2 separate regions of the Homo sapiens genome follow, and region 2 is linked to region 1. The links come from fine-mapping of genetic effects on gene expression. Tissue or cell type: blood mononuclear cells. Region 1 holds a variant in brackets; the other region holds the start of a gene. Each region is shown on its reference strand, or each on the opposite one. Region 1 overlaps MGA (MAX dimerization protein MGA). Region 2 holds the start of SYCP2 (synaptonemal complex protein 2).

Evidence for each region. PIP is the estimated chance that this variant, and not a neighbour inherited with it, causes the effect. A credible set is the group of variants that fine-mapping cannot tell apart.
Region 2: SYCP2 starts here. The variant in region 1 is the best candidate, but not a certain one, in a credible set for the expression of SYCP2 in blood mononuclear cells (TOPMed, PIP 0.53).

Annotation. Positions count from the first base shown.
Region 1 is chr15:41,737,791-41,742,182 of GRCh38, reverse strand. MGA (MAX dimerization protein MGA) reads right to left here. Exons shown (of 24, transcript NM_001400225.1): 14 at 1,980-2,277. Among named protein-coding and RNA genes, the nearest start is that of MAPKBP1, 34 kb to the left of the region's middle. The variant G/C (reference allele first, on the strand shown) is at 1,998.
Region 2 is chr20:59,931,417-59,935,808 of GRCh38, reverse strand. SYCP2 (synaptonemal complex protein 2) reads left to right here and starts at 2,172. Exons shown (of 45, transcript NM_014258.4): 1 at 2,172-2,240; 2 at 3,655-3,747. It also overlaps a transcript of FAM217B not described here. RefSeq lists a silencer at 1,482-1,881.

The sequences.
Region 1 (4,392 bases):
CTCCCGACATCAGGTGATCTGCCTGCCTCGGGCCTCCCAAAGTGCTAGGATTACAGGTGTGAGCCACCACACCCAGCATCTGAGCTTATTTCTACTCTCAGAAATCAAACGCTTGCCTTGACCAAAAACAAACCTCAGTTCTAACAAGAAAGGGATTAAAATTGAGTGTTCCAGGCCAGACACAGTGACTCACACCTGTAATCCCAGCACTTTGGGAGGCCGAGGTGGGCAGATCACGAGGTCAGGAGTTCAAGACCAGCCTGGCCAACACGGTGAAACCCCGTCTCTACTAAAAATACAAAAATTACCAGGGCATGGTGGCACGTGCCTGTAATCCCAGCTACTCAGGAGGCTGAGGCAGGAGAATGGTTTGAACCCAGGAGGTGGATGCTGCAGTGAAATGAGATAGTGCCACTGCACTCCAGCCTGGGAGACAGAGCAAGACTCTGTCTTGAAAGAAAAATTAAAAAATTAAATAGAGTGTTCCTACTAAAATTCTTTTGACTGTGCAATATATTCAAACTGTCAGGATACTAAAAAGACAATACAGTAGCAAAAACTTCATCACCTAATACAGATAAAAGAAAATGAGAGGGTTTGTTTCCCCCAATTTCTAATGTAAAAACTTGTTTCTACCATTTCCTCCTGTCTGAGCACTCTCACCTCTTTACAGCTGTGCTATTATGAGATGCTTACGTATTACATATTCCTAAAATATATAAAGACATTTCTCCAAACAGATCAGGATAGGATTGCTTTTTTTACTCCCCTTAATCACAACTGAAGCTGCCTTAATAAAAGGTAAAATAGATTCTTTTTTTTTTTTTTTTTTTTTTGGAGATGGAGTCTCACTCTGTCACCAGGCTGGAGTGCAGTGGCACGATTTCGGATTACTGCAACCTCTGCCTCCCGGGTTCAAGTGATTCTCCTGCCTCAGCCTCCCCAGTAGCTGGGACTACAGGCGCATGCCACCACTCCCGGCTAATTTTTGTATTTTTAGTAGAGATGGGGTTTCACCATGTTGGCCAGGATGGTCTCTATCTCTTGACCTCGTGATCCACCCGCCTCGGCCTCCCAAAGTGCTGGAATTACAGGAGTGAGCCACCGCGCCCGGCCAAAATAGGTTTTAAGGCAAACAATAAATATCTTCTATCTTCACACAACTCTAACCATTCAGCCAGAGATTTCAACTGACACTCTTACCTAACATTCCTAACAGATTTGAAACAACAAAAAGAGGAATTCAATAAACCAACTATAGATACTCTCAATGCTAAAACACAAATGTTTCAAGAAGGTAATTTATTACAGACTTCAGCATTTAAATGTTAAGGAAAAGAGAGATTTTCATTCATAGAACAGAGATGAATGGAATAAATCAACACTTTCAAAATTGTATTTATAGGAGCTTTCCACTTTAAGCCTATACTACTTACACCACTAGCTTTTGCTAGCTCCTTGGTTTCATAAGTTTAAGAAGTATCAACAGAAGCATTTACATAGCACCAGCAAGAGTTCAACAAGAGGCCAGAAACACCAGTCCTCACAGGAAAATAGTAAACTATTTTTAATTTAGTAAAATATTTTAGTAAATAATTTAGTATAATAGTAAACTATTTTTAAATGTCTTCCCTTTTTAGAAACAAAATTAAAATCCTTAAGTCTTTTCTACATTAATAACAACCAGTCTGAAAACCTTAAAAATAACTATAAAACTTGCCTTCAAGTCAGTGTTATTAAAAAATAAAAAATATATATAAAACCAAGAAATTAACTATAAAACAACTCAATTCATCTAATATTGCAGGTTATCAGACGTTAACCCCAAACAATCAAAAAAGTCCAGGCAAGACAGACAACAAGAATAAGAATAATGCCAAAGTACATATTTCTCTAATTTTTACAACCTCCATACCTGTACCCACTGTCCCACCACCAAGTCATAGGCCTTTCCAAACCATACATACACCCCAACTTACCAATTGGCCGTTTTGCTG[G/C]GACAAACGCCTTCAGATTCTTCCCAGGGCGATTTGTTGCAGTGCCAGAGGAGGATGCCATTTTGGAATTGGATGTTGAAGGCAACAGGGTACGTGGTTTCCTGGATGCAGCCACCTTGGCATTGGATGCTACCTTGGAGATGACAGTACTGAGGGTTGAGAGGTCCAGGACTGAGGGTCGCAACCTGCCTGTGATATAAGCAGCTAGCCTATTGGCTGGATGCAATGCCCCCATCTGTCCCAATAGCAACTTAGCCTGCGGGTAACTCTTACCATTAACCTGAAACAAGTGGCAAAGAGAAATTCTGTAAAGATAAAATTCTCTTGCTAACTCCTCTCCCTTGACAGGGGCTTCATTTTTACAAGTTTTCATAAGTCTATTTTTCAGATTTAAAAGGGAAAAAGAAGTAGACTTTTTCCATTTAGAATAATCTGAGTAATCAGAAGGTAGAAAAATGCTGTCAACTGATATTCTGAACTAATCTCATCTCCTTCATATTGTAGTTTGAAAATAGAGAATCGGAAACTCATCATTTCTGCATCCTAGTTATGTGAAAGTTATCATCAAATCTAAACAACTAGAATTATCCAATTGTTTTCCTTGTAAATAAGGCATTCTGGTTAAGCTATTAACCTCATCAGCAAAAATGAGTGTCCCACAGAATCTCTCTGATAAGACCAGAGAGACATAATGAAGCTCTCACACAAGGGTCCTTTCAAGCATCCTTCATATTTGAAAAATATAAGTGAAATCTACTTTAAGTTATAAGACAATCATTGTTGCAATAACCTAAGCCACAATTACCTCACAGTTTTTCATTTTCAAAAAGCTTAGCTTTGAAAATACTATTTTCATCTCTTGGATAAAACATGGGTTCAAACTGAATGTTGGTACGAACTCATTCTTATTCTAGACATAATTAACTAAATAGTCAGAAGAAAGTGAACCAACAAATGAAGTAAAGATCCCCTCTGCTGCCTGAGTTTATCAGACTGCCCATCATGGGTACCAGCACAGTTGTTTTTTGTGGGGGTTGATTTCTTTTCTTTTTTTTTTAAAGAAAGAAAACAAAAACTTCCCAAGTCTCTACCCATGTTCTCTAGGTCATATTGCCAGGCAACTCTAGAGAAGATAACCTTTTCTATATTTCCTTTTCACCATTTCAAAATCGGGGGTTGGGGGAGATGGAGTGAGGTAGAATCTACTCTCTAACAGGGAACTGGTGAGGAGACCAGCTACAGCAAGCAACTCCATCTTCAGAGACACAAAACAAAATTACTCTTTGCTACTTTGGTTAAATTGTGATTATTCCCACAGAGATCAAGAATATCTCTGCCTTGAGTTTGGTACAAAGAATGTGATCATTCCCCCTGAAAGTAGACTTTACTGTAACTTTTCAGGCTATACAGAAATAGGTCAGATACCCCCTCCCGGATCCCTTGGGACTGCGCTGAAGCCTACTCTGCAGCTTCCCCAAAGTTTACAAAGTTTACAGTTGCCTGACTGCTTATGCAGACACATTCTATGGTGGCTTTGTGAGTCCTGGGCAGAAGACAACAAAAAATTTCCATGCTTGTATTTTAGGGAGTCTAGTCTCACTAGAAATTGTATCAGGCAAACCTCTGTTTTCAAAGTGTCAATCAATATATAAGGTAGAGAAAATACTGTTCTCCTCATCAAGAGTATAAGAAATATCAACAGAAGCATTTACATAGCATGCACAACAGTAAACTGCAATAATAAGTTTTTTAATTAAGTAGATCAATCATATTAATATTATTTTCTCTTTTGAGATGGAGTCTCACTCTGTCGCCCAGGCTGGAATGCAGTGGCGTGATCTCGGCTCACTGCAACCTCTGCCTCCCAGGTTCAGGCGATTCTCCTGCCTCAGCCTCCTAGCTGGGATTACAGGCACACGCCACCATGCCCGGCTAATTTTTGTATTTTTAGTAGAGATGGGGTTTCACCATGTTGGTCAGGCTGGTCTTGAACTCCTGACCTCATGATCTACCCGCCTTCACCTCCCAAAGTGCTGGTATTACAGGTGTGAGCCACCATGCCCAGCCTATATCAATCATATTATTAATGGAGAAGTCCTTAGTGACTTAGAAGCAGCCAATCTAATGAAAGTCAAGCTAACTTTGCAATAATATCAGACACTTCCACACATTTGCTACTCTAATATAAAAGTGCACTTTTTTTTTTTTGAGACAATCTCCCTCTGTTGCCCAAGCTGGAATACAGTGGCACAATCTCAGCTCACTGCAACCTCCACCTCCCAGGTTCAAATGATTCTCCTGCCTCAGCCTCTCAAGAAGCTGGGATTACAGGCGCGCGCCACCACGCCGGGCTAACTTTTTTATTTTTAGTAGAAATGGGGTTTTGCCATGTCGG
Region 2 (4,392 bases), not on the chromosome of region 1:
TTAATTGAACGCCACATTATGATATTTCTCTTTTTTGAGAGAAGGTCTTGCCTTGTCACCAACGTTGGAGTGCAGTGGTGCAATCATAGCTCACTGCAGCCTCCAGCTCCTGGGCTCAAGCAGAATTCTCCTACCTCAGCCTCCGGCGTAGAGCAGCTAGGTGCACAGGCACATGCCACCACGCCTGGCTAATTTTGTTTTTTTGTAGAGATAGGGCCTAGCTATGTTGCCCAGGCTAGTTTCAAATTCCTGGCCTCAAGCAATCCCATCAACTCAGCCTCCCAAAGTGCAGGGAGTATATGTGTGAACCACGGCACATAGTTTCCAAATTTTGATTATAATTGAGAAGGTTTTTCATGAAATGCCACGGTCTAAAACCTTTAAAAAAAATTAACAGTAAAATTAATGATATCCTTTTTTTCTTCCATGTTGTAGTTTACGGATGTTTACTAAATAATCCGCAGGCTTCCTGAACACATGAAGCAATAAAAAAGACTAACATTTTTCTTCAACTAAAAAGCGGCAAGGTAAAAAATCATCACTATTAATTTTTGAAGTGTATTAGGAAAATTTCTGTGCGTTCGCAACTCCACCATGAAGGATCTTAGATCTATTGGCGGAAAACTAGGTATGAAAATAATTATGCAAAATTGCCAGGTCACAATTTTGAAGCACTCTTCGATCTTCTTACATTTTGTGTTATACATTATTAGTACTTAAACGTATAATTCAAAAGCATTGAAAGCTTTGAACATATAAAATCCCCTCAAATCCCTGCGTACACCTGTGTACCTTAGATTGCATATGTAATCTGTCAGCTCTGAATTAAAAAACTAAGATATCAAAATTAAGTTCAATGGGGGTAGTTACAAAGTTGTCAAGAAGTTGGTAATTCTAGCTAAGCAGAATATTTAAAACACCTCTGAGAGCTTATTTACTGTGATTTGATCTGCTCTGGTCCACAACTGAGCTTTGATTCTATTACCTTGTGTTTATTTTTTTCAGGTGCTTTCCACCGCACATTTAAATCTTAATCCCATATTTTTAAACAATTAGTGCCTTTTAGATAAGAAATTAAAATGTTATTAAAATATAATTTTAAATTTTGATTTGAAGATACCTATAAAAGTTTAACTACACATACAATTCAACTTTTAAAAATTGATCCGACACAAATATTAATCCAAAGGTGGTTTGCTGCAGTATTATTTGTAATAGAAGTGTAGGCTCATCAGTGGAGGATTGAATTCCTCGGATGAAGTTAATCCACATGATTAAATAATTACGAAGCTGTTAGAAAGACCGAGCTGCATCTCAGTGCACGTGGAACAGTTTCCATCTCAGAACGCGAGCACGGGGAAAACACGCAGAAGACTGAGCGCCGAACACCGACGCCCTCTGCGAGCCAAGGGGCAAGGAGACCCTTTCGCGGCTGTGCCTGTCTCAGAAGGGCCTGCGATTTTTTACACAAGCACCCGCTGGCTGCATAAGTTAAACGGATCTCTTAAATGGAAGCGTCTGAAAGAGCCTAGGAATACACAGTTGGGTACCCAGCTCAGCACCCCGTCTCCGGACCTGCGGTCTCTCCCGCCCTCCGGCACCCGCACCCAGGAGCCCAGGCGGCCCTGCGCCCCCTGCCGGCAGGAGCCAGGCCTCACCCAGGAGTCGTCGGCCCGGCGCCCTGGTCCCCCGGTCCAGCTCGCCCCTGCAGGGCTGGCTGGAGCCGCGGGTCCCAGTGGCTCTGGGGACGCATAGCGCGGGGATGGGCTTCTCCTGGTCCCGCCCGCGCTTCCGTCCCTTCCATCCCTTCCTGCTCGCCTGTCCCGGGACCAGGGCCCCAGTCAAGGCAGCGAGTCTCCTCGCTGGCGGGGGTGACTCCGCTCGCGGGGCGTTCATCAGGAGAGCATAGCGCGAGAGGACGGGCCGAAGCGCGGGGACAGCGGGGACCCACTAACCTGAGGGCCTGGCCTGAGCCGCGCCCACAGCGTCCCCCTTGGCTCAGGCCTCGGGCGACCCCGGCGAGCGTTGGCGGGGGTGGGGGGGATGGGGGGGGCGGGACCTGGCTGGCGGCGACGCCGATTGGACGCACTATCGACCGCACCTGGCGCGGATTGGACGGGCGCTTCCCGCCTTCCGCCGTTCGCCGGAGGCGCTGCGGCGGTCCCTGAGGCGCAGAGTTGCGACGCTCGGCGGCATAGGGGGCGGCTCCACCGACACTACGCGGACGCCTCCTGCCGCAGGCAGGTTGAGCAGAGTGCCTGGGTGGGCTTCCCCCACGGCGGGGCGCGGAGGGAGGGTGGGGCTTCGGCTTGGCCTTTCAAGCCGGCAGGCGAGAAGCTTCCGACGGTTGAGGCGGAGCCGTTGTGGAAGCTGCCGAGGGGGAGGGGGTGCGGTTCTGCGGCAGTGGGCGGAGGGGAGGCGCCGAGGCTGGGCCAGGGCGTGGGCTGTGCAGAGTTCGCGGCGAGGGTGGCTCGCGCAGGCGCGAGGCTCCCCATCAGCACCTGCCTGGCCAGCCTCGGCCTCGGGGATGGGAAATGGGCGCTCGGAGCCGCCCCCGCGCGTGGGCGACTCGGTCAAGGTGGCTGAGGCGCGGGGCGGTGCGCTTGGCGAGCGGGGAGCAGGCCTGGGGCTGCGCGCGTCGCCGGCCCGAGGAGGCTGAGGGGTGCGGGAGAAGCGGTGGCGACGGGAGCCCTGGGGACCGCTGCTCGCCTGTCTCCGGGACATCTGAAGGGGGGTTGGCGCTGCGGCCTGGGGCGCATCTCGGGTGTGTGTGTGCTTTGTTGGTTCGGGGGTGACCCTGGGAAAAGGGTCACCGTGCCGGCGGTGGGAGCAGGGACTTCGCCTTCGGCCTCGTTGTTGCCACTGCCGGTTCCACTTAGGGAAGAAGGGAGTGCGCGCAAAACCTTCCTCCTGCTCGGCGCCTTCAGTCCCTTCTCTCCCTCCCGCCGTCCCCACCTGCGGCCTCTCCTTGCGGTTGAGGCCGCCAGCCCCTCCGCGCAGCTGGGCCTGATGCGTCCCGCGGCGGCTCAATGCGCGACACGTGGCTCCACGTGCGGCCTTTTCTGGACCGGGCTCCAGGCTGGCCGAGCATCTGCGAATACGGCAGCGTGGTTTTTTTTTGTTGTTTTTTTTCCCGAGACGGAGTCTCGCTCTGTCACCCAGGCTGGAGTTTAGTGGTGCGATCTCGCGTCACTGCAACCTCCATCTTCCGGGTTCCAGCGATTCTCCTGCTTCAGCCTCCGGAGTAACTGGGACTACTTGGCGCGCCACCACGCCCAGCTAATTTTGTATTTTTAGTAGAGACGGGTTTTCTCCATGTTGGCCCGGCTGGTCTCGAACTCCTGACCTCAGGTGATCCACCTGCCTCGGCTTCCCAAAGTGCTGGGATTACAGGTGTGAGCCACCTCGCCCGGCCTACATTTTTTAGTAATGATGGGAGGAGGAGGACGCCTTCCCTCCCCTTCATTCACCTTTAATGTCTTTTTGGACACCTTAGCTATGTTAGTTACCAGGGCAGAGGGGACTTTGAATTATCTACTGCTGCTTGCATTCATTCAGCAGTTTTTCCTTTGGGGGAAAATCTTTGCCTCCCCCATCTGCCAAATTGTTTTCTTTGTTGTTGTTTTTATCCGTAACGCTTTTATCTGCCTGCAGATACACAATCATCATCTTACTAGTTCTCTGTGTTGCTCGCTAACCAGTCCCCCAGTTCAGTAGACTGGAGCCCAGAGCCTGCTTACTTGTCAGGTAAATCCACGCTTCTCTTGAAACATTATTATTCTGTTCTCGGTTTCCGAAGTCGTTCTGTTACATAGTAGTAGTTCCTAAAGATCTTTTAAATTGTTTCCTTATGAGGCTGGAAAAAATAAGTGTATAACTTTTGTTTCTTTTTAGAGTTAGCCTTCTCTTTCACTTGCAAATGTTAACTTGTTTGATGTTGTGGATAGTGCTGTGCTTTTGACTCTATTGTGGCCTGTATGCATTCAGCTTTGAGGCATGCGTGTGTGTGTGTGTGTAACCTGATTATTCAGTTTGCTTTCCTTGGTTTGTTTTTCCCCAACTGACTTCGTGCAAAAGTAGATTAGAAACTAAAACCATCTTGTTAGCTTTATGTGCCTCTTTGGCTGTACTTTTTTCTGTGCTGTAATTAATGTCTCAGGGCATTTTGTAAAATACACTGTTTCAAATTGCTTTAGTTCTGAAAACAGATAAAGCATAGCTAATGGGCAAGCCTGCCTCAACAGTTGCTGGCCCTAGGGTAAGAGTATAAATGGAGCCCCCACAACATATTTTAAGTATTTAAAGTTTTAAATCAAGTTTTCACATTGTAAAATAAAATAGTCTCAAATTTCACAAATACACCTTCACTGCATCAAAACAGAAAACTACATG